2 separate regions of the Homo sapiens genome follow, and region 1 is linked to region 2. Evidence: fine-mapped expression QTL. A gene starts in region 2. The other region holds a variant in brackets. All regions are shown on one strand. Distances are from middle to middle. Region 1 holds the start of RFX2-AS1 (RFX2 antisense RNA 1). Region 2 holds the start of RFX2 (regulatory factor X2).

Region 1 (15,412 bases), 48 kb before region 2:
ATTTTATATTTTTCCTTTTCTTCTCTTAATTTATTTTAAATACATAAAACTATTTAACAAAAACTTTATAACACTCCATTGTGGGGTTTATATCATATGTAGATGTTCTCCATGACAGTTGTAACACAGAGGATGGGGACAAATTAAGTTATACATTCAAGGTTCTTTTATTTTACCTAAAGTAGTAACATGTTAACTCTATAAATTGTGATAAATTAACAATGCACATTGTAACCTCTGAAGCATCCACTAACCAAAAAAATATATATACAAAAAGGTATAGCTAAAAAGCTAATAGAGAAATCAAATGAAATCCTACTTAACATATTTGATTATCTAAATAAAGGCAAGAAATAAAGAACAGAGAAACAAACAAACAAACAGATGGCACAAATAGAAAGCAAATGGCAGAATTGCTTTGCTAAATCTAGACATATTAATAATATATTAAGTGTAAATAGACTAAATTCTTGAATGAAAAGGCAGAAATGATCAGCCTGGATAACAATCAAGATCCCATTATATGGTCCCTAAAAGAAACCCTCCTTAAAAATAAAGGCACACATAGGTTGAAAGTAATAGAATAAAAAGAGATCCACTGTGCAAACTCTGATCTTTTATTTTTATTTATTTATTTTTTTGAGATGGAGTCTCGCTCTGTTGCCCAGGCTGGAGTGCAGTGCCACAGTCTCAGCTCACTGCAAGCTCCACCTCCCAGGTTCACGCCATTCTCCTGCCTCAGCCTCCCGAGTAGCTGGGACTACAGGTGCCCGCCATCACACCAGGCTAATATTTGTATTTTTAGTAGAGACGGGGTTTCACCTTGTTAGCCAGGATGGTCTCCATCTCCTGACCTCTTGATCCACCCACCTCGGCCTCCCAAAGTGCTGGGATTACAGGTGTGAGCGCCACACTCAGCCTGCAAACTCTGATCTTAAGAAAGCTGGAGCGGCTGTAATAATCAGACAAAATAGACTCTGAGATGAGAAATATTACTAGCAATACTAGAGACATTGACAAGACAAGGAATATTACTGCAGATAAAATTTCATCATAAGATGATCAATTTATCAGTATGACATATTGATTACAGATATGTATGTACCTAGTAATACAGCTTCAAGATACGTAAAGTAAAAATTAACAAAACTAAAGGAGGAAATAAACAATCATAATCGGAGATTTTAAACATCCTTCATTCAGTAATTTTGATTACTGAATCAAAATTAGAAGAACTAAGCAGAAATATTACTAAGGATACAGAATATCTGAATTATATTATCAACCACATTGATGTAATTGACATTTAGAGAACACTACAATCAAAACCTGCACATTCTTTTCAAATGCACATGGAATATTCACTGTGATGGGTCATGTTCTGGGCCATAAAATAAGCCTCAATACATTTCAAAATACCATAATTATACAGAGCATGTATGCACTTTGACCACAGTGGAGTAAATTAGAAATCAGTAAGAAGGTTAGAAAAATGCCAAATATTTAGAAAACTTAAAATACACCTTCAAAATAATCCATGGGTCAAATAATAAACCCCAAAGAAAAATAGAAAATATTTTGAACTGAATTATAATGTAAACACTTTGTATCAAAATTTGTGGGCACTGGTACAAATATTGTGGGTGAAAAAAAGAAGTAAAATTATTAAGAAAAAAAAGTGGGCACACCTAAAGCAGTGCTTAGAAAGAGATGTTTAGCTTTATATGCTTATGTTAGAAAGATTTAAGAACGTTTTCAACCTTAAAAAGCTATATAGAAAGACAAACAAACTAAACTTAATAGAAAGAAGGAAAAACAATAAAGAACAAAATTAATGAAATTAGAAACTCCACAAACAATGGAGAAAATGAACAAAAGCAATATTTCTTCAAAACTGAAATTTTTTCAGAAGAAGAAAGGAGCTATCAAGCCATGAAAAGACATGGAAGAAATTTAAACACATACTATGAAGTGAAAGAAGCCAGTCTGAAAAGGCTACATACTGTATGATTCTAATTAAACAACATTTTGGAAAAGGCAAAACTATGAAGACAATGAAAAGATCAGTGGTTGCCAGGTATCAGAGAGAGGGATGAGTAGGCAAAGCACAGAGGATTTTTAGGACACTGGAACTGTTCTGTATGGCACTATAATGGTGGACACATGTCATTATACATTTGTCCAAACCATAGAATGTACAACACCAACAGTGAACTCTCGAGGAAACTATGGACTTTGGGTGAAAATGCTGTGTTAATGCAGATTTCATCAACTGTAACAAATGTACAACTCTGGTGGGTGATGGTGATAATGAGGGAAGCTGTGCATGTGTGGAGGTATGGGGTATATGGGAAATCTCTGTATTTTCCTGTCAATTTTGCTGTGAACCTAAAACTGCTCTTTAAAAAAGCAAGTCTTGGCCAGGCATGGTGGCTCATGCCTGTAATCCCAGCACTTTGGGAGGCCGAGGGCGGGTGGATCACCTGAGGTCAGGAGTTTGAGACCAGCCTGGCCAACATGGTGAAACTCTGTCTCTACTAAAAACACAAAAATGAGCCATGTGTAATGGCGGGCACCTGTAATTCCAGCTACTCAGGAGGCTGAGGTGGGAGAATTGCTTGAACCAAGGAGGCAGAGGTTGCAGTGAGCTGAGATTGCACTACTGCACTCCAGCCTGGGTGACAGAGCAAGACTCTATCTCAAAAAAAAAAAAAAAAAAAAAGCAAGTATTTAAAAAAAGTTAATTAACAACTTCTCCTGGAAAGACTGATAAGAAAAGAAAACCCAAATTGCCAATATCAGGAATGAAATGAAATATATCACTAGAGATTCTACAGAAATCAAAATGATAATAGAGAACTATTACAAACAACTTTAGCCCATAAATTCAATAACATATAAAATGAACACTTTTTTAAAAACACAACATAACAAAACTGACACAGATGAAATAAAAAAATGTGAATGTAATACATATAACAAAAAAATTGAATATGTTATTGGAAACTTCCCTACACAGAAAACTTCAGGCACATATAGTTTTACTGGTGAATGCTATCAAATACTGAAAAAGGAATTATTACACAAATGCCATCAGAAAATAAAAAAAGAATACTTCACAACTCATTTTATGAGGTCAGTAAACCCTGACACCAAAACTTAACAAATATATTACAAGGAAAGTGTTTAGACTAATATCTCTTATGCACATATATGCAAAAATAATTTAAAATATTAATAAATCAAATTCAACAATATATAAATAATATAACCCACACTTAGATTATCAATTGATTTTTTTTTCTAATGGAGCCTCAGCTCTTTTCTTCCTCAACTGGATTTTCACAAAGGTGTCAAGGCAATTCAACAGAGAAAGAAGTCTTTTAAACAAATGGTGATGGATCAACAGAATATCCATATTGGGGAAAATAAATGAACCTTGACCCCTACCTCACACCATACATAAAAATGATTTCAAGTTAGAACATGAACTTACTTACACACAAAAGCTAAAACTATAAGACTTCTCAGAGAGAACATAGGAGGTTAGACAAAGGTTTCTTAGAATGCACAAATCAGCATAAAAGAAAAACTTGAGAAATTAGATTTCACCAAAATTTAAAACCTCTGCTCATTAAAAGATTTTGCTAAGAATATGAATAGGTAAGCCACAGCCTGGGAGAAATATTTGCAAAACATGTATCTCATAAAGGGCTTTGATCCTAATATATCTACATCTATATCTATATATATAAACTCCTACAATTCAATATAAGATGACAAATAACTTAAAAAAATGGTACTTCACAAAGCAAGATATACAGATGCCCAAAAGTACATGAATAGTGGTCAGCCTCATTAGTCACTAGGGAAATGCAAATTCAAACTATATCAAGATATCACTAAATACTCACTAGAATGGCTAAACCTGACAAGTCTGACAACATCCAATGTTGTAAGTACATGGAGCAACTAAAACTCTCACACACCCCCATGTGTAGATATGAATGATATGACCACACTGGAAAGAGGTTTGGCAGTTTTCTAGAAAGTTAAACCTGCCCTTTAACCCAGAATTCCTCTTGTAGTTTTTATCCAAGAGACATGAAGACATATCTCTTCAAAAAAATAATAACAACTTGTATAAGCATGTTCATAGCAGCTTTTTGTTTGTTGGTTTTTGTTTTTTGTTTTTGAGACAGGGTCTCCCTCAGGATAAAGTACAGTGGCACAATCACAGCTCACTGCATCCTCAACCTCCCAGGCTCAAGCGATTCTCCCACTTCAGCCTCCTAAGTAGCTGGGACTACAGGCACGCAGCACCATACCCGGCTAATTTTTGTATTTTGGGTAGAGACAGGGTTTCACCATGTTGCCCAGGCTGGTCTCAAACTCCTGGGCTCAAATGATCTGCCCACCTCAGCCTTATTCATAGCAGTTTGATTCAGTCACCAAAAAGTAAAAATAACCCAAATGTTCCTCATCAGGAGAGTGGACGAGAAATTGCAGATTATGATGATTTAAAGATTCATATTGAAAACCCTAAAACAACCACTAAAAATGGAAAAGAAGAGCATAGCTAAAAAGCTAATAGAGGAATACTACTGGAATACTCTTCATGAATAGAAAGGAATTAATTACTGAAATTCACAATGCATGGATGAATCTCAAAATCATTACGCTGAGTGAAAGAAGTTGAGTCCAAAAGAGTAGATGAGTAGAGTGGATTAAAACTAAAGTTAAAAAAAAATCATAATAGTGGGTGGGGGGGCAGGTGGCGGTGGGCGAGAGTGACTGGAAAGGGACAGGAGGGGACACTCCAGTGAGATGGACGCATTCTGTATGATAATACAGTGTGCGGTTACATGGAGTCGTGATTTGTCAAAATTAGCCAGCTAAGGTTTGTGCACTTACTGTATGTGAATTTTAACAATGACAACGAAGCCTGTAAAAATACAAGGGTGGAGAGGAGGACGGAGAGTGGGTACAGGTATCCAGGTGTTATAAGAATGGCAGGACCCTGACACCCTGTAGAGGGTGGTGGCTTCATAAGTTTCATTGCATTGTGTATTTACTTTGTGGATGTTTGAAATTTCCATGATAAGGAGTTAAACAAACACACACACAAGACACCAGCGATGAGCAGGAGTGGCTCATGATCCTGGCGGTGCTTCCAGGTAAGCGCAGTAGCTCACATGGTCCTCCCAGAAGGGGTGATGCTGGATCCTGAGTAACTCCTCCACCTGGCAGAGGAGAGCGCAGCAGAGAGTGGGCAGAGGGCAGGGCCCCGAGGGCGTGGGTGTACTCAAGGTAAAGTCCACAGGGCACAGGGACGCACACTGTGGAGCACCTTTGCAGCACCCAGTTTGGGAACCCCTCAATCCAGTGCAAGACAGTAGATGTGAGTGAGTGGAGGCCATGCTTCTTCTCTGAACCTGAATCTGCTGTGGGAACTTGGACCCATTCAGTGACTGCCCTGCCGTCCTTGCTTTCTCGCGTTCCTTTGTCCTCTCTTCTGTTTTTCTTCCTGTGGCGAGGACCTGGGCAGTCTTACTTTGACTGCCTTCCCCTGTGTCCTCTTAGACTGGGTTACAGGAGCCTCGGAACAGCCAATATAAAGGGGAGGGGCCGCAACACGACCTGTCACCCAGCCTGGCCCTGCCTGGCCAACGGGCTTGGCTGGCCCAAAGCTCCCTCCCTCGTGCCTCAGAAATATGCCCGGAGTGCTGTTTATAAGCTGAGCACGTTTCATTTACCATCTGGTCCAAGATCAGGGCGGGCATGAAATAAAGGGGAAAAGCACAGAACCAGCGGCGCAATTTCCCCTCCTTGGCCGGCACCAGCCTTTGGAATCCACGAAACGCTCATTTGACCTTGAACGAACATTCAAGTGAACCAGATGCGCACTTGACCTTTTGGAGCCACTGCTGAGTCAAACGCGCCAGTGGGAACATCTCCCGTGGCTTCCTGACTTCATGTGAGGGGGCACAGGAGAGACGCAGCTAGAAGCAGCCCTGGACTACGGCCGTGATGAATGAATCTGCCTGGGCACAAAGGGAAGAGGCTTCTGTTTACAGAAAAATACTCCCATCACCTAGTAACCAGCAATGTCAGGAAAGGAAATGCAGAAAACGCTGAGAGCAATTTCTGGGCCCGTTCCTGGCTGAGCCGCTGACTCACTGCGACCTTAAGCAATCTCTCTTCTATTCCTGTTCCTCCATATGCCAAATGGAGCTGTCACCTGCCTCACATAGTTCAGATCAGTATTTAGACAATGTTTTGTCATCTTTGGTGATAATTGGGGCAGAGTTAGCTGAGTGGTTTTAGTTACCTTCATTCTGATTGGCTGATGAGCCTCGGTGTTTGGGAGGCACGTGGCCTCCTCCGGCCATCAGCTCCTCCTCTCCTGGTACTCGCTGGCCTCCAGATGGTACCAGAGTTCATCTGCCCTAAGAAAGCAATTAATTTCCTCCCTCTGAACAAGAAGGAACAAGCCCGGAGTGCTCTCAGGAGTACCAGTTGCTTCAAAGCCCAGATTCTGTCCTGGTAGCTTGTCTTAACACTCCCAGTGTCATTAGGCTGCCCAGAAAAGTCTTGTCCGTTTCCTTCTCCCGGCTCCCCTCTGAGGGCCAGGTCCTCGGAGTAAGTGATGCGTGTTTTAAGATTCTGTCCTCACTGTTCAGGCTTGTGTGGCCTGGCCCCACGCACAGGGAGGACACCTCCAAGCCATCTCCTTGCCGAAAAGTGGATTCTCGAACCCTCCTTGATGGTGGAACCATGTCCTTTCTGGCACCAGGATTACTCCCTGTGGACCCAGTTGGTTCTCAGTGCCAAGAGTTATTACTCTGCCCTGATAATCACCAAAGATGACAGTGTGTGTCCCCACTTGGCACTGTGGACATTGGGGACGGATCCATCTCTGGGCTGGGGCCGTCCTGAGCACTGCAGGGTGCTGAGCAGCATCCCTGGCCTCCGCTCACTCCATGCCAAGAGCACCCCCAGTTGTGACAACCACAGATGTTCCCAGACATTGCCCAGTGTCCCCTGGGGCGCAGAAGGACCTCTGTTCAAAATGGATTTGTGATGTCTAAGAAGGGGTCTGGACAAACAGCCCCCGAGTAAAACAGGCCTGTAGACAGGGTGAGAACAGGAAGATGAAAAAGGAGAGTAGGCAGGATGCAAAATCATGACAATTCAGCCAGGCAAGGAGTGTGAAATAAATGAACAGGACCCTCTGAAGGCTACCCACACATTCCAGAGCAGCAGGCTTCAATGCACACCAAGGGCAACCATCGTTCCCTCCGTGCCTAAGCCACGGGGGTGCCCGTCATTCCTCACTTTTGGGTTTTTTTTTTTTCTCCTCTTGTAGCAATGGGCTTTCAAGGACTGGAGCTGGCTCCGAGCTTCTCTGAAATCAAGTATCTTCAGAATTCAAATTCCTTTTTCTTTTCGTAAGAATTGGGCTTCTGTTCCTGTTTTCTTCTCAGGAGCCAAACTTTCCCTCCTTTCTCTAGAAAAGGATCAGAACCAAGCCCTTGACAACTGGCCTGAGAAAGGGCTGTTTGCAGACTGGAAGGGGGATGGGGGAGTGCAGACACCCAGTAGGCCCTTAAGTCGCAGGTTCTAATCTTCAGAGGCTGAGAGCAGGCTGCGCTGACAAGGCCTCCCCTAAGCCAGGGACCCCCGTCTTAACAGTGGAAACACCCGTTCCTTCCCCTTTAGAAACCTGACTTTTTTTTTTTTCAGACAGAGTCTTGCTCTGTCACCCAGACTAGAGTGCAGTGATGCGATCATAGTTCACTACAGCCTCGACCTCCCTGGCTCAAGTGACCCTCCCGCCTTAGCCAACCGAGTAGCTGGAACTATAGGTGAGCACCAGCACGCCCGGCTAATTTTTAATTTTTTGTAGAGACAGGGGTCTTGCTATGTTGCCCAGAATGATCTCGAACTCCTGGACTGAAGCAATCCTCCCACCTCGGCCTCCCAAAGTGCTGGGATTACAGGTGTGAGCCATCACGCCTGGCCTTGATTTGACTATTAATATAAAAATTGTCCAAACTAAAGTATGGTTACCTCATCTCTGATGTGGTCTGATTTTAACTGCCATCAATAATATACCAAATTCAGGGTGAATTTTGAATTAAAAAACCACCAAGTCTTCATGACACTTTCACCCAGCAAATACTCTTTTGGCAGGCAACCTGATTCCACTGCTTCTAGCAATAACTTCAACACCACAAAACTTGGTTTCTAGGAAATGGAAATTCTCCTTAGGTTATGGGGTGCCCTAAAGTCCAACACATTGGAGTGAAAGGTAACTGGATACCAAGCTAGAGGCCGAGCAGCAGCTGGTGCTCTGTCCCCCAGGAGTGGATATCTGTCCCCCAGGAGTGGACATGAGAGTGTCACACACACACAGACGCATGTATACACTCCCCACGTATGCATATACACAAATATACATGGACATACACATATACACAAACACACACACACAAACACATGTACATACATGTATACACAAAAGTACACATGCAGACACACATACATGCACACACATACACCACCTGACGCAGGATAATATGAGAAGAATGGCCAAAACCACTCAGAAGACACGTCATTTTCTTACTCCATACATTTTTCTATTAAATTGAATGTTGACTCCTCCCACTAGACAAAAACAACGATTCTTGTAGTAAAAAGTGA[T/TG]GGGGGGGAGCCTGTGTTCACACATCCACACACATGCCTTTGGGAGAAAGCCTCAAAGTACATTTTTTTCTCTGTACTTTTCTCCTTGCAAGATTCCATTCTAAAATTGCAACTCTTTTGTCCCCCTTTTCTGACACCGCCTCTGCACCTCCTGGCTCTCAGCCATGCCCCTGCCATGCTGTCTCTTCCACTTCCTTCTACCCCACAACTCCTTCCCTGTGCTGACCTCCCCCCACTATCTCACATCCAGACTGTCTACATCCAGTTCCTTGCATCTTCAACTCCCATTTTCCCATTATCTATGATGGCTTTTGTGCTCCAACAGCAGAGGCGAGGAGCTGAGACAGACCCCAGCAGAAGCCTAAAATATGTACTCTCTGGTCCTTTACAGGAAAAGGCTGCTGGCCCCCTTCCTGAAGGTTCTAGAGCCTTCCGTCTCCCTCCAAGGACCCACCGATCAAGCCTGCAATCTGGCTTCTGCACAGGCTCCATTCTTTCAGCTTATAGACAAGCTCACATCACACCCATTTGAGGAGAACATCCACTGCCACTGAAACCCTGCTCTTTATCCTTTATCTTCTCTTGAGATATGGATTCTTTTTTATTTGTAAGTCCAGACTCTCAGGAGGGAGCCTCTGTCGTCTTCTCTCTGCATTCTCATGTCTGCCCACTGTTCTTCTTGAGGTCCTCACGGGGCAGTTTTCGGGCCTCCTCTGAACTTGTACTCTCTGCAGTGTTTCGTGTCGCTCCTCGAAGCTCTGTCCTCCCTCGTGTCTGGGTGCTGTTGTCATCTGGTTTCATTTTTCCCCCTAATGATACCTTCTCAGTCCCCTGCACTGGTCCCTGCTTGTCTCCCACCCTCGGCCTCCACCCTTGTGCCCCTCCCCTGTCACACTCAATGTGGACGACCTCCCGGCACCAGGACTCCCAGCACCACCCAAATCACCTGACTCCGGCTCCCTTCTCCAGCTGCCTCCCAGACCTCTCTGCCTGGGCGCCCCTCAGGTGCCTCAACAAGTCCAAGGGAAACTCTCCCCCCGCCAAAATTGCTCCTCTTGCGTTTCCTAAGCCAGGGGGCTGTTCAAGGCACTGGGCATCTCCCTGCGCCCCGGGACACGTGTCGCTGGTGACTCAGCCTGCTGTCTCCACCTGATACCATCTCTGCCTCCCCCTTCCTTCCGCTCCTGCTGCTACTATTTCAGTGAGCCCCTGCCTCCCTATCTCCTACCTGGAACCACCACATCCGCCTCCTAATTGGTCTCCCTGCTTCCAGCCTCTGCCCTCTCCCAGCCAATTTTCTTTCACATTGGGGTGATTCAAAAGATAACAATGTCTTCTCATTCCCTGGCTCAAAAAATCCTCCCAAGAATTTTCACCGCATAGACAGTGTGTGTGCTAAATCAAGGGATTAACTACCAAGGTGGGGGTTCCAGACCATTTCGATGTCGAAAAGGTCTGCTGTCTGTAGGATCCCTTCTTTAGAGGGTTGGAGCCTACCCTTCACACTTACAAGTCTGGCTGATCAAGACCTTGTCACCTGAAGACTGTCCGTAGGCAGGCAGAGAGCCCTGCCCCACAGAATGCATCCAAAGAAACGGAACATTTGGTTCCCTTCCTACTCCCGGCCCCGCCTCTGGATCTTACTGGGGAGTCGGCTGCAGCCGGGGGAAAAAGACTTTGCAACCTCCATTATTTATATAAATAAGAACAAATGCCAAGGGGAATGCCGAGTGGCTGGGAAGGAGGTATGACCACCCGGAGCAGAGGGAGGAGGCCAGGCTTCAGGTTCAAGTCCCAGGCTTGTCACTCGCTTACTGACTGTGGCAGTGGCCTTGGTTTCTTCATCTGAGAAAGGGGCTGGGAGGGGGAAGGGAATGATATAGCTGATGTGCCCACCCCGAGTGTGGATCCCAGCAGGTGCCTGATCAATGAAATATGTCCTAGGCAGGGGCGGGAGGATCCATTGAACCCAGGAGTTCGAGACCAGCCTGGGCAACATAGCGAGGCCCCATCTCTACAAACAAACAAACAAACAACAACAACAACAAACTGGGGGCCGGGGAAGGTGGCTGATGTCTGTAATTCCAGCACTTTGGGAGGTTGAGGCCAGAGGATTATTGAGGTCAGGAATTTGAGGTTGAAGTAAGCTGACTGCACTACTGCACTCCAGCCTGGGAGACAGAGGAAGACCCTGTCTCTAAAAAGAATAAACAAGTAACAAAACAAAACAATGAAAAACAACCAAAAAACCAAACTAGCCGAAAGAAAGAGGGACACAACCCCAAGGACAACAGCAGCGGCAGTAGCTGGTGGCCAGACCGAGCCCCAGACTGCGGGCAAAGCTGGTATACGTGGGGGCTGACTGACTCTGAGGAAGCCGTGACCACATCACCTCTGCTCTAGACACAACACACACGCAACTGAGGCTCAGAAAGGGCGAGCCATGAGCTGAAGGTCACAAAGCAGGAAGAGGCAGGCTAGACTGGAACTGGCTTTGGCTTGGGTTTGGCTAAGTCACTCCTTTAGGAGGAGGAAGCACATGTTTTTATGACTAGAGCCTCCGGAGCCACAGCTTCCCGACCTACGTGGAGCTTCCGTCTCTTTTCTGTATATAAATCGCTTCCCCAACCCCATGCCAAAGAGAACTCCAAATAACAACACAAGCTTAGCTTTTGCTTTAGAAGTTTCTAGAATTTAGTTGATGCTATTGGAGCTATCATGAACTGATACAGTCCCCGTGGGGAGTGACTGTATGAGCTCGAACTGGACTTGGACATTTCTCCAGCCCTCTGTGGTTCCAGTTGAGAAGTAAGTGCTCTTCATTCATTCTCAGTAACCAGGAGGAAAAGGTAAATCAGCGTGACTTAGAATGATCGTTCCCTCTGTCTATCCCCACAAGCAGTTCCCTGTGCGTTTAAAGCAGTGGGTTTTTCAGAATGTAAAGATCTGGGGGTCGCTCCCTGGCCAGTCGCGCATATTCAATATCTGCTCGTCCTTTCCCTCCCCTTCCAGAGACCAATGTCACCTGTCTGTCCTTTTCTGGTGCCTGGCCCTTGCTGGGGTCACCCACATCCCCTCCCGTGAGCTGCTGTGTCTCGTATCCCTCCTGTCCTGCCGCTCTCGCTCTTGCTCCTAGGCCGCCTTCTCCCTCATGCATCCAGCTACTTGGTTTGAAACTCTCCCCTGGCGCCTGCTCTGTGGGGAAAGCCGGGCTTCCTCTGATTCCGGATGGAGTGTTTAAATGAGATGTCCACACAACCCCCAAGGACCCTCTGATTCCAACGGAATTGGAGCCTACGCCTGCCAGACCCCCAGGCCTGAGCGCCAGCCCTTCACTGATCAGCTAGCCTCTGCCTGCAAGTCTAAGGTCTGCAGAATCGAGGGAGGCCAGCATGGCACACAGCGGTCCAGACTCGCAGTGACAAGGTGGCTGCAGTGCATGGAGGGCCACCGGAGGCTGGCACTGGTGTCTCCTGCACACAACGCAGGGAGGGTGAGGATGGGGTCCATGCACCTGCCAGGGTGGGGATGGACAAGACCCCTCCAGCAGGGCCAGGCAGGCTGGGCAGCCCTCTGTCCCTCAAAGTCCACCCGCCCATGACAGCTAAGATTAAAGTGACTGCTGCGTTGAAGAAGGAGGGAGGCAGAGAGACAGCAGCCAGCAGCTCCAAAGGGGATCCCAGGCAAGTGATGAGCAGTGGGGAAACCCTCTCTCCAGTCAGCTTGTCATGTCATACAGGCTTTCCTGACCTCAGCAATGCGGATATGAGGGGCAGGAATACACTCTGGGGTGGGGCCGTCCTGGGCACCGCAGGGTGCTGGGCAGCATCCCTGGCCTCCACCCACTCCATGCCAGGAAACCCCCCGACCCCTGTCTGACAGCCACAAATGTCTCCAGACATCGCCCAGTGTCCCCTGGGGGCAGGACCACCCCCATGGAGAACCACACGTCTAAGGCCACACCTTTACTCCACACAGCATTTCCAGATTCACCAAACCACTCTCCGTGCTTGTCCCCTCAGATTACTTCATGTCATGCAGCTGTTCACATCTGGCTTCTTGGCCAGCCAGCCCTTCTTGAGAAAACAAAGTCTGGATCTATGTCATCTCAGCAGCCCCCTCACAGATCCCTCACCCCAACCCCAGACCCTACGTAGCACATTGCCTGCAAAGATGCTCAAGACGTGTTTTGCAATGAACAAGAGAATGAGCAGCCCGCCTGCTCCGGGCTGCTCACCTGTTCTAGCCACCTTCACCATGTTGGCCTCCAGCTCCCGTCTTCAGCTGAGCACAGGGGCCTGTCCCAGGATTCTTGGAAGCGGCTTCCTAAGGCATCATGCTTTTGTGTTCTCCTTCTCTTACCAGCCTTTCTTTCCCTCTCACGTTTCTCTCCCTTTCTGACCATGAGCAGGGCTGCAGTGCAGCTGCTGATGGTCAAGATGAAGATGGGGAATGTGCCAGTGAAAACCTGGCATGCGGAGGCCTCACCTCACTCACCCTCTCCTGTCCCAGCTTCAAAATCTTTCAGAGCGACTCATGCTGCCAGAGGGTGGAGGAGTGGACCTTGAAATGACAAGTGACAGTTCCTCAGCAGTAGCATCTCCTGCTTTCTCAGCCTGGTGACCTGACCCGGCAGCACGCCCACTGGGCACCTGTGCCCACCTGGGGATGGGGTCTCGTCCTGCCTGTGTGACCCTTCCTCCTGACAGCCATCTCTAGAGACAGCCAGTGAGGGCAGGGCAACAGGCAGTGCATGTTCTTTCCACATCTCCATGACTGATTCTGGCCAGGAGGAGGCTGGCTTTCTGGATCCCACCAACATCACATAGGGGACCTTTTCAATCTACCTCCTACCTCCCCTCCAGTCGTGATTTGATTCTGGAATTTAAGAAGCGGAGAAAGAGCCTAGTTCAAATTCAAGAATTTCCATCTAAAACCACAGCATGGAGAGGCCCCTTTAAAAACCACCTAACCCAGCTCTTTCATCAAACAGATGAAGAAACTTACCTAAAGATGTTAAGTGGTTTGCCCAAATTGCAAAGCCTGATATATGGGAAAATACTTCCATGGGAAATAAGAAAATGATAAATTTAAAAAAAATTTTAAATGAGGCTCTAATTCCTGAAAAATGACTTACTTAAACTGGGGACTGGGCAGAAAATAATATTGTAGAAGGTAGAACAGCATTTCTTTGGGAGGATTTATCTTTTTAAGTATATAGTGGTCTTCTACCACTATCCTACAACAGGTTGCAGGACAAATAATGTATTTTAATCTTTGGGGGAGTCTTTGTGTAAGTCAGACCTTATTCATTTTCATTCCAACAACACTCGCAGCCATTGGATCCTAATTATCACATCTAATAAGGCTGATGGCTAATCAGCTTGCCTTTTTAAGAAAAAAAGGCCGGGCACGGTGGCTTATGCCTGTAATCCCAGCACTTTGGGAGGCCGAGGCAGGTGGATCATGAGGTCAGAAGATCGAGACCATCCTGGCTAACACGGTGAAACCCCGTCTCTACTACAAATACAAAAAAATTAGCCGGGTGCGGTGGCGGGCGCCTGTAGTCCCAGCTACTCGGGAGGCTGAGGCGGAAGAATGGCGTGAACCCGGGAGGCGGAGCTTCCTGGGCGACAGAACGAGACTCTGTCTCCAAAAAAAACACAAATGACATTCCATTATAAGTTTCTGCTGCAAAAGAAAGTTGGGAAATTTGTTTAGATACTTTAAATAGTCCTAAGATTAGCTGAAATGCCGGTAACAAACGTGCAATGAACATTTTCTTGGGGGCATTCAGCAACAAAGTGAATCGTCCTTAAAAAAAATCCATACAACTAAAGCGAGTCTCACCACGGGAACCACAGGAGCTGTTTTAGTGAGGGGCTGGAGTGTCTGTTACAGGCGGCACTTTTGCGGCTGTTGCTGCATTAGTCAGATTGCACTCGAGATGAATGAGGAAGAATAAAGTCTTCACCAAAAACCTGTCTTGGCTAACAGTTCTGAATTTATAGCCCTGGCAGTGGGGGCGGGGGCTGGGGGCGGGGCTGGGAGGAGGGGAAGAAATGTGTCACCCGCTCTGAATGAAGTTCAGGGGTGGTGTTTACCTAAGCAACAAACCCTTGTCAACAATCGCTATCTCTGGCTTGCCAGCGGAGGAGGTGGGGGAGTGAGGCTGTTTTGATCAAAATCCAACCTGTGGCTGCAAAGTGCCCATCAACAGGGCACTTTGTTAGTGGGAACGTGCGACCTCTCTTAATAAACATAACATACACATCCCACTGAGGGCCACGGGTGGACCCAACTTCTTAACAGGAACATTGAGCACATGAAACCAGAAGGTGCTGGGTCCAATTTCCACCCTCAGCCAACCCTATCTGTGAATGTCTCTACATGTGAGCCAGCCAGGGCTCAACTCTTTGCTCTTCTGAAATTCTTAGGCAGCAGAAATGAAGGCATCGTGCTGAAAAGCGCTCCAGAAATTGCGGATTTATCAGTGATGTACGGTAGTAGGTTGGACAAGTAATGATTTTCTGAACACCAGGAATTAGATCAAAAAAGAAATTCCACTTAAGACTAAAATAAGTCTCCAGTTGAGAGCAGTCTAGGACATATTCGAATGGCCAGAAGTTTGTTTCAATGGGGCCTCTGCGTTTGTGCAGCCTGGGAGTCAACATTACAATATTGGTTCTTTCAAGCAGATCCCGAG
Region 2 (14,786 bases):
GGGATTTCATATTCTCCACTGTGTACTCAGCTCCTAGCAATGAGACTCAGCAGCAGCTCTGTTATAAAACCCCTCCCCGCTCCCCGAACTTTCTGGAAAAAGAACTTCATTTGCAATTTTGGCTGGGTAAAAAGGGAAATTAATTAACAGTAGGGGTCTTTGATTAAAATTTCTTTTGAAATTTGGTAAAGGAAAAGTACATATTGAAAGAGCTGGAATGTTAATTGAGATCAAATCGAAAACATGGAGTTTGAAGGTTATTGGATCTCAGGCACGGGCTGCGTGATTTTTTTTTTTTTAAGAACTGAAGGTTTACCATCTTGATGTAGGCCTTGCCGTCCTGAAGAGCACTCGGGCTCATGTGTTTCATTCACTCACATGTTAAATATGAAGCCCTATGTACAACATAGCCTGTGGGAACTGTGGCAGGGGTAGCTGTCTCCATCCTCCAGAACCTTGTCACAATCAAGAATAGGAAATGAGACGCACAAATCACTACCACCTGTCGAAGTGGCCTTGCAGTGCTAAATCTAAGTGCTGAGGCAATTTGCCTGCAGTCCTTGCCACTTCTTGTTGATTAGTCCAGCAGCCCCCAGCTGGGAGGCAATTCTGTTCACCCTCACTCCCACCTCAGGACATCTGGCAATGTCTGGAAACAGTTGGTTGTCACCACTTGGGGAAAGGGGAGTGTGCTTTTGGCAGGTAGAGGCCTGGGAGGCTGCTCCACATCCTACAGTGCACAGAACAGTCTCCCCAACCAAGAATAATCTGGCCCCAAATGTCAATAGTGCCAGGGTAGAGACTCAGCTCTAGTTTATATTTTCCAACTTAGCTCCTCAATGAAAATCTCAAGTTTCCATGGCAAGAGGGGATTAAAGAAGGGTCTTGAGGGAAGAGTAGGATTTTCTTCAGTAGAAATGACATTCCAGAGAAGGGATAAGAAAGTACAAGACCCGTTTAAAGTATGGCAAGCTCATTTGGAGTAGTGAAAGGGAGGCAACGAAAAGGGAGATGGGGCTGGACTGAAGGAAGCCTTGAATGTGTGGTTACAACAAAGGGGAGGGGACAGTTTGTCCGTTTGGCTAACAAAAGTAGTAAGAAAGTGCCCTTCCGTTCCTCCTGACATAGCTCAAAGAGACATGACAAGGCGGTTGGGAGAAGAGGAAGAGATCAGTAAGAATCCAGAGACGACAGAGCCCAAGGTCTGTGCAAAGAGCCGCAGGGAGACAATACAGGAAGTGATTAGGCAGGAGGCTTTGGCGGCGACCGGAAGGCTGGAGAATTATTGCCTCTGTAACAGGAGAGGAGGGCTACTTCCAGTAAGAAGGACCAAGACTCCAGAGGCCACTGGCACTAGAATAAGAAGAGAAGTAGGCTCATGCAGGCCCACGTAAATCGGAGGAAGGTGGAAGTTTCCTGACCGGAAGTCTAGGTGGGAGGCGCCATGTTGCGGCCCAGCCGCTGCTACTGACTCCACCATCCGGCAGTTCGTGAAATTAAATAACTGCAAATTGATGAGTCTTTTCTTTTGCATGCTGAGTCTCTCCAATGAGCACACTCATCAGTGTGAACCAAGGCTGGCAATTAATTGAATTATATTGATTTAATTGAATTAATTAATTGAATTATATTGATTTAATTGAATTAATTAATTGAATTAATTAATCATATCCATTTCCAGAAGTAATTTTTACTCACCCGCGTCTGTCATTTTAAAGGTCTGCAGTAAAAATACCAGGATTTACACAAAAGATTTGCTCCTGAGACATATCCTGCTTTTAACTTAGGCTCTGAATATCAGTTGCCAATGGTTTCTAACAATTTTAAATTTGTCTAGTGCCTTCTCCCCTCTCAACTGTCCACATGACGATATATTAATACACGTAAATGCTTAACTAATTATAAGCTCCTCAGATGTTTGATATTTCAGGCCCACAAATATTTTCTAAAGAAATGGATGGAGACCCCAGAGAGCTCCTCACTGAAGTCCCTAGTAGGGTGAATTCTTCAAGAAAACGAATAATTCCTTTTAAAATCAGAAGCACATCTTTTAGTCTGTTTTCAGTGGGTCTGGAATTCCAAATATATTTTTTCTCAAGGCAGGCTACATCTGTCTGTATGTATTCTGAGAAGGACAGGAGAGGTGGGAAAAAGGCCTTCGTGTTATTTTCTTTGGGTTTCCACTGGCCTGGGTGGAGCCCGCATACATTTTTGTGGGCTGGTAATTTTTTTGGAAACTGCTTCTAAGGCCTTTCCCCACAGATCACCTTTTGGACAGAAATGTATCCTTGGAAACATGGCACAGTTTCTAAAAGATAAACAGTTTGCATTTTTAAAAAAGTATAATTAAGTGCTGTTGCAGCTTTAGGAATGGACTTCTATATCATTGGTATAATTTCAACAGTTTTCCAGGAGACAGGCGTTCATGAGTCAAGCCTTCTGCCTTTCTGTGGGGACCCAATCCTTTTTCACATGGGACTTGGGCAAGTCTAATCTTTCTGGTTGCCATTGGATCTCACTCTTCATGGTGCTCAGTTCTTGAAGTTATTTCCTCCTTTGCCTTTTGAGCCTCTGTCCAGGTTCTCCCTCTACCTAAGAGTCCCTTTGAGATCTCTGCTTAGCATGGTTCACAATAGCTGTAAGGTGGAAACCACCCAAGTGTTCATCCATGGATGAATGGGGAAACACAATGTGGCATATCCATGCAATGGAATATTCTTTAGCCTTAAAAAGGAAGGAAATTCTGATGCATGCTACAGCATGGATAAGCCTTGAAGACATTGTGCTAAGTGAAATAATCCAGTCACGGAAACACAAATACTCTATGATTCCACTTATATAGTGTATAGTCATCACATTCACGGGGACATGAAAACATGGGCCGCCCAGTCCTGAAAACATGGCCACACCCCTCTCCCCCATCTGCTGCCTGCAGAACACTATTCTCAAGATGCAGTTCAGATCCACATCCTCTTTTCAGACCTTTCCTCAGCTCCAGGGACAGCTGGCCTCCCCACTTTGTCTGCCCTCTGTGCCCTGTAGAAACATCTAGCAAAGCCTATTTGATACTGACTCCTCTTCCTTGTTGGTCTTTGGTCTTTGTAACTGGATAGGATAGCACTTTACTCAAAATAGGCAATGAATAAATGAATGAAGGATGAATGAATGAAGATTGTATGAATGAATGATGAACAAATGTCAGGAGTCTGAAAAGCAGGTCTTCCGGTAAATGACTGGACACCTTTGATCTGACAGGTACCGGCTGATGTGAACTCTACCAATGATCCAGTTTATACTTCGAATAGCATCCAAACTTTGCCCATGGCCTCCAAGGCCCTGCAGGTTGCCCCTGCCTCTTCTGCCTCTCCTTGCTTTGCTCGCCAGGCATCAGCCACACAACTGCAGGACCTTTGTACCTGCTGCCCCCTTCCTGGAAGGCTCTTCCTTCTGAACCCCACAGCGCTGGTTCCCTCTCCTCATTTCAGTCTCAGCTCAACTGTCACCTCCTTAAAAACTGCTGGACGCCAGGAGCCCAGTCCGCATCACACGGCCTTGCTTTTTTGTCTCTACTGTTCAATTTTTCAGCCAAGTTCAAATACAAGAAGCCTCTTATGGCCAGGCACAGTGGCTCACATCTATAATCTCAGCTACTTGAGAGGCTGAGGCAGGAGGATTGCTTGAGCCCAGGAGTTTGAGGCTGCACTCCAGCCTGGACAAGAGAGCGAGACTTCATCTCGTTTTTTATTATGAATTACCCATCCCCCAGTCTCAGACATATACACAAACACATGCACACACGTCCAAAAAAACTGCAGAGATCTTAGTAGAAATAGGCTTACCATATATAGCACATCTGGGCTTCATTATGTAATAAATGACAAATAATCACTATATTGGACCATTACATGTAAGTTCTACATATTTTTAATGGCTTTTCAGCTTTTTCTCCACTTTGAAACATGGACTGTAGCAGGTGTAAATGGACTGACAGCATTTAAAATCTATCTGCTTTATGTATCATCTACAGGCAGTGGCAAGTCAACTGTACTTTTTAGAAAGTCATGGAATTCACAAACATTAAAAATAAGAATAAGGAATTGCCAGGGCATACAACAGGGTTTTCAAACATGCAAGACCTATGTATCATAAAACAGGAATGCACTTTCAGGAAAAAACAACTGAGGTGCAGCAAGGCCAGGCCGTCTGCTCCTAAGGGCCCAACTCAAGTCCTGGCACGAAGACCAGGCCAGTCCCCGGCTCCAAGTGGCTCATTTCCAGACTCTGACTGTGTTGGCATCCAAGAGCCAGTGATAACAGAGAAGGGAAACCAGTCTTAAAATGTTCTCATCTGTAGAGCTGGCCACTCCCCAAAACTCATCATAAATGTGATGTTTGGGGAGTCATTTCAGAGGGACCCATGCCACAACCAAGATGTAGGACTCCAACAACTTTTCGTGCTGTTTTTGTTCTTACGAAGCACTTATGTTTGCAGAGGGACATATTAGTACCCATGAGTTTCTAGGTTAATTTAAGGGAATTTCCTACCCTAAAACAGACAGCATGAGGCCGACCACTCAGTCAAGCAAGATGTATGTACTAAACGCCTCCTTAGCATTTGGTCCTGGTCAGGAAACCACAGTAAAAAACTGATCATCCCAGGCCACTTACTACTTATTTGCTTCATCCTAATAATAATAATAATAACAACAGTTACTTTTTTCTGAGCACCTATTAGATGCCAGCCCCTGTGCTAAATAGCTTATAGAAATTATTTCTAATATAGCAACCACACGAGCTATTATTATCGATTTCACAGATGTCAAACCTTGCCCCAGAGCCACTAAGCTAATAAACGGTGGCACCACAATTTAACTCCTTCTCTGCTGTGCCCCAAAGCCCTGGTCTGCAACACCCAGCACTATGACCTGCAACTTTTCCTTTCCTCTTTCCCCTGCCCCATTCATCCAGATTCATCCAATTTGGGCTCTACTGACTCAGAGATGGCAATATGAACTTAAGGTACCTATGAGCAATTCTTAATTTAAAAAAAATTTTTTTGGCCGGGTGCGGTGGTTCACGCCTGTAATCCCAGCACTTTGGGAGGCTGAGGTGGGCGGATCATGAGGTCAGGAGATCGAGACCATCCTGGCTAACACGGTGAAACCCCGTCTCTACTAAAAATACAAAAAATTAGCCAGTTGTGGTGGTGGATGCCTGTAGTCCCAGCTACTCGGGAGGCTGAGGCAGGAGAATGGCCTGAACCTGGGAGGTGGAGCTTGCAGTGAGCTGAGATGGTGCCACTGCACTCCAGCCTGGGCAACAGAGTGAGACTCCATCTCAAAAAAAAAAAAAAAATTTTTAAGGGCAGGGTGTCGCTATGTTGCCCAGGCTGGTCTCAAACTCCTGGGTTCAAGCGATCCTCCTGCCCTAGCCTCCCAGGTAGCTGAGATTGCAGGTGTGAGCCACCACACCCAATGCAGCTCTCAACTCTTCATTTCTACATATGCTTTCCCCATAAGTGTCAAGGAAACCATTTGTTTATTCATTTCACAAATATTTCTCAATTGCCTACTCAGCACCAAAATTCTTCTCAGCCCTGGGGATATAGAAGTTAATAAAACAGCTCATGCCTGTAATCCCAGCACTTTGGGAGGCCGAGGTGGGCAGATCATGAGGTCAGGAGATCGAGACCATCTTGGCCAGCATGGTGAAACCCTGTCTCTACTAAAAATACAACAATTAGCTGAGCGTTGTGGCACGTGCCTGTAATCCCAGCTACTCAGGAGGCTGAGGCAGAAAAATTGCTTGAACCTGGGTGTCAGAGGTTGCAGTGAGCCGAGATTGCACCACTACACTCCAGCCTGGTGACAGAGTGAGACTCCGTCTCACAAAAAAAAAAAAAAAAGAAGTTAATAAAACAGAAGTTCCTGCCCTTACTGAGCTGACATTCTAACAAGAGGACAGTGATAATACAATAAATACGTATAACTTATGGTGTGTTATATAGGAATAAATGCTAAGGAGACAGAGAAAGCAGGGAAGGAGGCTGAGAGCACCCATTCTCAAGTGGGTGGCCTGGTGACATCTGAGAAAAGGCCTGAAGAAAGTCGGAGAGCCAGCCCTCCAAATACCTGGGCAAAGAGCTTTCCAGGCAGAGCTGGAATGAGCTTCCAGAGGCCAGCAGGGTGGAAGTGCAGTGAGGGAAGGCATCTAGCTTGGCGATGAGGTCAAAGAGGTATTAGGCTTGGCGGGGAGTGGAGTTAGGGGTGACTTTGGCTTTTGCTGCAGATGAGATGGGAGCCATCGGAGGGTTTCGAGCTGAGGGGTATGAAGTAGAACTTAACATGACGCCGCCTCTCCCAGGGTTAACAGGCCCCGTCTGGCTGCTGGGCTGAGAGACTGCCGAGCACCAGTGGTGGAATCATCCGGGCTAGATGCTGGTGGCTGGGACCAGAGGGGCTGGCAGTGGAGGTGGCGAGGCATGGTCAGGTTCTGGGGAACTACTGAAGGTGGAGTCAACAGGATTTGCTGATGGCTTGGGAGAGAGGAGTCAAGGACAGTCCTGAGGTTTGGCCTGAGTAATGGGAAGAAGTGAGTTGATATGTACCAACGAGTTTGGGGGGTGCTTTGGGAGGAGTAGATCTGGGGGGACTATGACAGGCTCAGCTTGGCCACCTTAAGTTTAAGGTGCCTGTCAGAATCCACCTGGATGTACCCAGCAGGCAGCTGGATAGATGTTTTCTGCAGAGAAGAGCTTAGAATCCTAAGCCAGTCCAGAGCTTCCCAGGCTCCAGTTCCCTATAGGCCTGTTAGGGCCTCTCTCTGGACCTTTTGCCACTCCTCCTTCACCTACCCTTATCCCTTTCGCCCACTTCATTCTGGGTCTTCCCCTATATTTTTTTTCCTGGGAGAATCCTTTTGCTGATCTTAGAGTTTCCAAGAAGCAAGTAGGTGGTTTTCAGTTTTTTCTCTAATTCCCAGTGTATATTCCATCGGCCTGCCCATCCATCCATCCATCCATCCATCCATCCATCCATCCAACAAAATAAGACCTTTCACTACACCAGGCATATGTCTACATGAGAGAACATGAGAACATGACCAGCAGAGGAGCTAATTGCCATTTAAATTCTAGAGACGGAGTCAAAACATCTTTTTAAAAAATACATAAGCCCACAACCCCTTACAACAATACTGAAATCCAGGAAACTCTGAAAACTGGCAATTTTTTTGTAAATTTGGCATGGACTCACTTGGTGACAAAAGCTGGCCTGAATTGACATGAAGTTACTTATGGTCCTTCTCTTCCCCACTTCGGGTGAATATTCATATAGTTCAGTTCAGAAATACGGCTGTGTTTAGTGGGAATGCCCTGGACCCATAGTTTCAGAGACAGGCCCACAGACTCGCATTCTCCTCCCCTGCAGTTTAGTGAGTGTCCTGACAAGCAAGATGAGAACTTCCCTTGGTTTTTCAAAAGTTTCCTATTTTACAAGTAAGTGGGTACCTATGGGGGTATACTGTTTAAATGTTTGTAAATATTTAAATATATTTGTTTTATATTTAACATATATTTATATTTAAATTTTATTATATTTAAATATATAAGTATATATTATATATACATGTTTTAATATTTCAATATATATTTTAAAAATATTTAAATATTTAATAAATAGATGTCAACTTTAGAAACAAATATATATTATAAGATGTGGTTCCTTCTGGCCCCAGCATTTTATGAGCAAAACAATCACTAGCTACTATAAAAATCCACAGGTGCCGGCCGGGCGCGGTGGCTCACGCCTATAATCCCAGCACTTTGGGAGGCCAAGGTGGGCGGATCACATGGTCAGGAGATCGAGACCATCCTGGCTAACACAGTGAAACCCCGTCTCTACTAAAAAATACGAAAAATTAGCCGGGCGTGGTGGCAGGCGCCTGTAGTCCCAGCTATTCGGGAGGCTGAGGCAGGAGAATGGTGTAAACCTCGGGGGTGGAGCTTGCAGTGAGCCGAGATGGTGCCACTGCACTCCAGCCTGGGAGACAGAGCAAGACTCTGTCTCAAACAAACAAACAAACAAACAAAAATCCACAGGTGCAGGGGCCGGGTTTGGTGGCTTACGCCTGTAATCCCAGCACTTTGGGAGGCCAAGGCGGTTGGATCATTTGAGGTCAAGAGTTTGAGACTAGCCTGGCCAACATAGTGAAACCCCATCCCTACTAAAAATACAAAAATTAGCCGGGTGTGGGGGTGCATGCCTGTAATCCCAGCTATTCAGGAGGCTGAGACAGGTGAATCCCTTGAGCCTGGGAGGTGCATGTTAAGGTGAGCTGAGATCTTGCCACTGCACTCCAGTCTGGGTGACAGAGTGAGACCCTGTCTCAAAAAAAAAAAAAAAAAAAAAAAAAAAATCCACAGGTGCATTTAAAATTTTGACTCGATTATAATATTAAAGTTAAGCCAATTTAATATTTTTATTAATTATAATGCTAATGTAAAACTAAACAATTAGATCTAAGGAATAAGACCCAGATAAACAATTCCCCAGCACCTGCATTTCTGGTGGACAGAACCATCCTTAGCAGTACTTCAATGATAAACAATGTTAAAAGATGAGTATTTACATTTAAATATACATCACATACACATTATATTATATTGTTGTATTTAAATATACATCACACATACATTAAGGTAATGCGTGCCCTTCACGCAGAAAGCAAAGATCAAGTGATTTCAAAGAACTTGTCCTGTTATTGAGGTAATAACTGTCTCTCTCTTCTCAGATTCAGTGGTTTATAAGAAAGAACTTAAAAAACTAAAATATTTCAGTATTGCTTTTCCTGCAGGAGCAAACTATTTCAGAACTCATTCCCAACCCAAGTCCGTTGAACTGTCACAGAATCACAGAACAGTGATCTTTCCCATCATACATTATAAGTTGCCTTCCGTACCACGCCTGTTGATGAAGAAGCCCTAGTAATTCAAGAACTTAAATTCTTTTCCTAGGGAGGTTACCATAAACTCTTACTTCTCTGGTCAGAGTAGGTGAGTTGTCGTTTCTAAGGTTATTTTAGAGTCAGTTCAAGTCTTTAAACTAGAGCAGGAGAAAGCACAGATGCCCCCCTCCTCCTTATCCAGAAGGACGGGAGGTAAGGATCTTTCCATAAGCAAACAATGTTTCAGGGCACGATGTAAAAAGATAAAATACATGTCAACAATATGTACAGGCAAAAATTTTTTTAAAAAGTCTTTGTTGTTTTGTGTCATTATTATTATTACTGTTACTTTGTTGGGGAACTCTTAGTTGAAACAGAGAATGAAGCTTGTACAAGGTTTGATACAGAGATGAAGCTGACTGAGAGGGAAAAGAACTCATCGAAGCCTGCGCTGGTCATTTATGATACAAAGCAGGAAAATAATTGCAGGGAGGCACAATGCTAACAACACCCCAAAGTAGGAATGAAGCCTGGGGGGGCGGGGGTAAGGCAGCCAGCCCTGGGTCCCGAGCTCCATCTTGCCCTCTCCCCTCCCCATTCTTGCCGCACAACCAGGAGGTTAAAATAGGAAGATGAACCGCGCCGGCAGCCGCCAGAATGGCCCGGGCGCTTGGGGCCCTCGGGGGCCCTTGAAATAGCCACTAGGATCGGGAAATCCAACTTTCCCAGCGGTGCAGCGAGGAAAACCAAAAGGAACGGAGCCGGAGGCTGGTGGCGAGGGAGCGCGGAGGCTTCTCGGAGGGAGGAAAAAGAAAGAAATGAGCATTTGGGGTGTGAGTGAGTGTGTGTGTGTGAGTGTGTGTGTGCGCCCGCGAGCGCGCTGGTGGGCGGTGGGGGCAGGGGGTGGAGTTTAAATCCACAAACACACACACGCACTCGCACTACCTCGGAGAAAATGCCTGGAGCAGTTTAGGTTCTTTAACAAAATAAATAAATTGAAAAAAAAAAAAAGTTTCACTCGCGTTGGTGAAACTTTTCTCCCTTCCAGATCAGTCCTAAGAGGAGAGCTGCGGACGTGCGGAGGGGCATCTTGGGGGCACGTGGAAAGACTGGCGGACGCACGAACCCCTATACTCAGGAATATGGGGTCACAGGGAGAAGGGGAGGGGGTGTCCGAGGCGACCTGAACGCGAGGATTTGGGGCAAAAAGGTGAGAAACAGTTCCCGGGGAAGCTCGCTCGGGGAGTTTGGGATGAAAAGGTGAGAAGGGCAAGAGGGGTTCTCCCCAGGGCAGACGCACCAGCTTTTAGTTAAGGAATGAGAAAAAGGTTCCAGGGGTGCCCCCAAATTCAGTATGTCTGGGAGTCCATTAAAAAGGGGGTCCCCGGGACAAGTCAGATCTAGGAATTTGGGGTAAAAATGAGAAGGGAGTCTTCGAGGTCCCCCCGATGCAAGAAGTTTGCGACTAAGAGTGACAGAAGGGCTCTGGGGTCACCCCAATTTCGGAGGTTTGGGGAGTAAAGTAAGAAGAGGGCCCCAGGTGGCCCCAATTCAGGGAGTTTGAGGGTATGAGTAAAAGAGGGGTCCCCGGGTGTCCCCATCTCAGAGATCTGGGGAGTAAAAGTGAGGAGAGGGTCCCCAAGCGCCCCCAATTCAGAGAATTCGAGGGTTTGAGTAAAAGAAGGGTCCCTGGGTGCCCCCAACTCAGAGATCTGGGGAGTAAACGTGAGAAGAGGGTCCCCTGGCGCCCCCAATTCAGAAAATTCGAGGGTATGAGTAAAAGAGGGGTCCTTGGGTGCCCCCAACTCAGAGATCTAGGGGGTTAAGGTGAGAAGAGGGTCCCCAAGCGCCCCCAATTCAGGGAGTTTGAGGAGTTTGAGAGACGTTCCCGGGGCGCCCCCAACTCAGCGAGTTTGAAGGTAAGCGTGAGAAAGGGGTCCCCGGACGCCCCAACCTCAGGAAGTTTTGTAAAAAGTGAGGCGACGGCACCGCACCTCCCCCGCGTTCAGTCAATAAGGAAAGTGGGGACGTCGCCAGGGTCCCCCCAAACTCCGCCGCGCGCGCGGACGGGGTGGCGGAGGCGGGTCCCGCGGGCGCACCACCCGGACGTTTGGGGTGAGCGGCGGGGACGTGCTGCCCGCCCCCCGGCCCCCGAACGGGGTCCCCGCCGCCCCCCACACTCCCCGGCCGGGCTGGGCCCGGGGCGGTCGCATCGGTCACCTGGAGTTCGGGCCGGGAGTTCGGGCAGCGGCTCCCGCGGCGGCGGCAGCGGCTGCTGCGTGTTGGTCCCCGTTGGTAAGTAACAGTCTCCACGGCTACAGTCTCTATGGCGGCGGCGGTGGCGGCGGCGGCCGCTCCTCCTCCGGCTCCCGCCGCCAGCCAGCCTCGCGCAGCCCGCCCGCCCGACGGGGCGGGGCGTTGTTACCGGCAACGGTTACCAGGCTCCGCGCCCCACCTTCCTAACGGCCCGCCCACGCTCGCCTCCAACGGGCCCCCAAGAGGGCGGGGCGCGAGACCCTACGGCGTTCCATTGGCTGTCTGCAGAGTCTGTCGGAAGGAGGAGGCGTTCCCCCTTGAAAAAGAGTGCGAGACTCGGCCAATGGCCGCGAAGAGGGGCGGGTCTTGGCGGGAGGCGCGCGCGGCTCAGAGGGTTGGCGAACCGGTCGCGCGCGCGGCGCCGTGGGTTGGTGGCGCGTTTTGGGAAAGTCCAGTTTTAGGGGACCCAAGGGACTCCGTTTACCCCACAGGAGGAGTGTGGGACATGTGGGAACAGTCTGATCAGGGGTCAGCAAACTCTCGCTCGCCGCCTGTTTTTCACGGACCCCCAGCTGAAAATTTAAATATATATATATTTTTTACATGGTTAAAAGAAACTATCGGCCGGGCGCGGTGGCTCACGCCTGTAATCCCAGCACTTTGGGAGGCTAAGGCGGGTGGATCACGGAGTCAGGAGATCGAGACCATCCTGACTAACACGGTGAAACCCCGTCTCTACTAAAAATACAAAAAATTAGCCGGGCGTGGTGGCAGGCGCCTGTAGTCCCAGCTACTTGGGAGGCTGAGGCAGGAGAATGGTGCGAACCTGGGAGGCGGAGCTTGCAGTGAGCCGAGATCGCACCACTGCACTCCAGCCTGGGCGACAGAGCGAGACTCCGTCTCAAAAAAAAAAAAAAGAAAGAAAGAAAAAAAAAGAAACTATCAAAAGGAGCTTTTGTGGGGTGTGAACCTGATAGGAGACTCTCTTTTATTGTATTGGGCCCAGTATTTTGAACTAGTTTAAAGATTGGCAAACTGCGGCCTGCGGGTCAAATTCTGCCTGCTTGGGTTTGTAAATAAAGCTTTATTGGAACATAGCCACGCCCATTTCCTTGAACAGCTTGGAAGGCTGCTTTGACACTACAGGGGCGGAGTGGAGTAGTTGCGCAAAGACGGCATGTCCCACGCGAAGCCTAAGATATTTACTATACGGTCCTTTACAGAAAATGTTTGCCAAACTCACCAGCCCTCCTCTCAAGCTGGTAGATTCAGCTACGAGTAGGACAGAAACAGACAGATCCTCATAGAACTTTTATTCTAGTGAGGGAACATTGACAGCAAACAGAATAAAGAGGTAAACATATAGTTATTCGAGACAAGGGGCTGGAAGAATAGGAGAAAACAACTTGTACTGAGAAAAGGCAGGAGATTAGGCTTCAGCCCCACTCATTCATTCAACAAGAAATCATATTAGTGAGCACTGATTAAATTGCTATGTGCCTGAAAGTGATCTAAGCATTTTTTAAATATGCAAACTCATTAAATCTTACAATCGCATCTTTAGAAAGATGCTAGGCATTATCCCCGTTTTTATTTGTTTTGTTTTTTCTTTTTTTTTTTTTGAGACAGAGTCTCTCTCTGTCACCCAGACTGGAGTGCAGTGGTGCGATCTGGCTCGCTCACTGCAACCTCTGTCTCCCGGGTTCAAGTGATTCTCCTGCCTCAGCCTCTCAAGTAGCTGGGACTACAGGCGCCCGCCACCACGCTCAGCTAATTTTTGTATTTTTAGTAGAGACGGGGTTTCACCATGTTGGCCAGGCTGGCCTGGAACTCCTGACCTCAAGTGATCCGCCCGCCTTGGACTCTCAAAGTGCTAGGATTACAGGCATGAGCCACCATGCCCGGCCTTTCCCCATTTTTCAGATCAGGAAGCTGAGGCCCAGAAAGAATGAGTGAATTTGCCCAGTGTCAAACAGCTTGTGAGGGATCGGAACCCTAGTAGTCTAGTGCCAAAGTCCATGCTCTTGATCACTAGATGGGTGGTTTTCAAACATTTTTGACCACAGCATACAGCAGGAAATACATTTTACCTAGGGGCTCAGTCCACACAAACATATCTATAACTAAAACAAATGATACTGTAACTAAAGTACCGTGAAATGATACTTTAACGCACTCTGATATTTCCTGTTCTGTTTCATTTTAATTAAAATGTTGACGGTGATTTGCTAAATTGATTTCATCATCTTCTAATTTTTTTTTTTTTCTTGAGACAGAGTCTCTGTCGCCCAGGCTGGAGTGCAGTGGCATGATCTCGGCTCACTGCAACCTCCGCCTCCCGAGTTCAAGTGATTCTCCTGTTTCAGTCTCCCGAGTAGCTGGCGTTACAGGCACGCGCCACCACGCCTGGCTAATTTTTGTATTTTTAGTAGAGACGGGGTTTCACCGTGTTGGCCAGGCTGGTCTCAAACTCCTGATCTCAAGTGATCCACCCGCCTCAGCCTCCCAAAGTCCTGGGATTACAGGCAGGAGCCACTGCGCCTGGCCATGTGACAGATTCTTAAGCTCAAGTGGTCTACAGTAATCAGTCCCTTTCATTCAATTATTAATTTAGTCAAAAATATTTATTGAGGTCCAAGTGCAGTGACTCAGCAGGAGGATCGTCTGAGGCCAGGGGTTCAAGACCAGCCTGGGCAACATAGTGAGACCTTATCTCTATAAAAATAAAATAAATTAGCCAGGCGCAGTGGTGCACACCTATAGTCCCAGCTGCTCAGGAGGCTGAGGTGGGAGGATCGCTTGAGCCCAGGAGTTCTAGGCTGTGGTGAGCTATGACTGTGCCTCTGAACTCCAGCTTGGTAGACAGAGCAAGAACCTGTCTCTAATATATATATATATACATTTATATATATACACACACATATATACACACACATATATGTGTGTATATATATAGTATATGATGATAGATAGATAGGTAGATAGATAGATAGATAGATAGATAGATAGATAGCGCCTACTATTTGCTAGGTGCTAGGGACACAGGTGTAAATAAAATAGATAAAATTCCCATGGCCATAGGAAAAGTGATACAGTAGTGGCTTGGTGGGAGAAGTGGGTGGGTGGGGCTTACCTTAGATAGAGCAGCCAGAGATGATCTCCCTGGGATATCCAACAATCCTGCTTGGCCCAAGACTAAGGGGTTTCCCAGGATATGGGAATTTCAGTGCTAAAACCGGGAAATCCCCAAAGCGGGAAGAGTTGGTCACCCTGGGTCTCTCTAAGGAGCTGACATTTGAGGCAACGTTGGAGTAACGAGGAACAAAGGAAAATAGTTTGGAATTCGAAATCCCTGGGGTGAAAGCTGATGTGGAAGAAACAGAAAGCAGGTCCTTGGGCACAGCTGGAGCCAATGAAAGGGGAAGAGCAGTGAGTGGGTGGGGTGAGTGAGTCAGGGGATGATATGATGGCCATCATTTTATTGGAGGCCGTAGGGAAGAAGTCACGATCAGACTGGGAAACCAATGGAGGGTGTCTTTTGTTGTTGTTGTTGTTGTTTGTTTTTGAGCTGGAGTCTTGCTGTATCG

Evidence for each region.
Region 1: its variant is fine-mapped to the expression of RFX2 in whole blood (TOPMed, PIP 0.95).

Annotation. Positions count from the first base shown.
Region 1 is chr19:6,051,255-6,066,666 of GRCh38, forward strand. The region is part of intron 1 of RFX2 (regulatory factor X2); the gene reads right to left. It overlaps RFX2-AS1 (RFX2 antisense RNA 1), which reads left to right and starts at 11,344. Exons shown (of 2, transcript NR_199041.1): 1 at 11,344-11,514. RefSeq lists enhancers at 14,628-15,129, 14,644-14,938. The variant T/TG (reference allele first, on the strand shown) is at 8,707.
Region 2 is chr19:6,099,230-6,114,015 of GRCh38, forward strand. RFX2 (regulatory factor X2) reads right to left here and starts at 11,271. Exons shown (of 18, transcript NM_000635.4): 1 at 11,164-11,271. RefSeq lists an enhancer at 9,785-10,285 and a silencer at 11,133-11,592.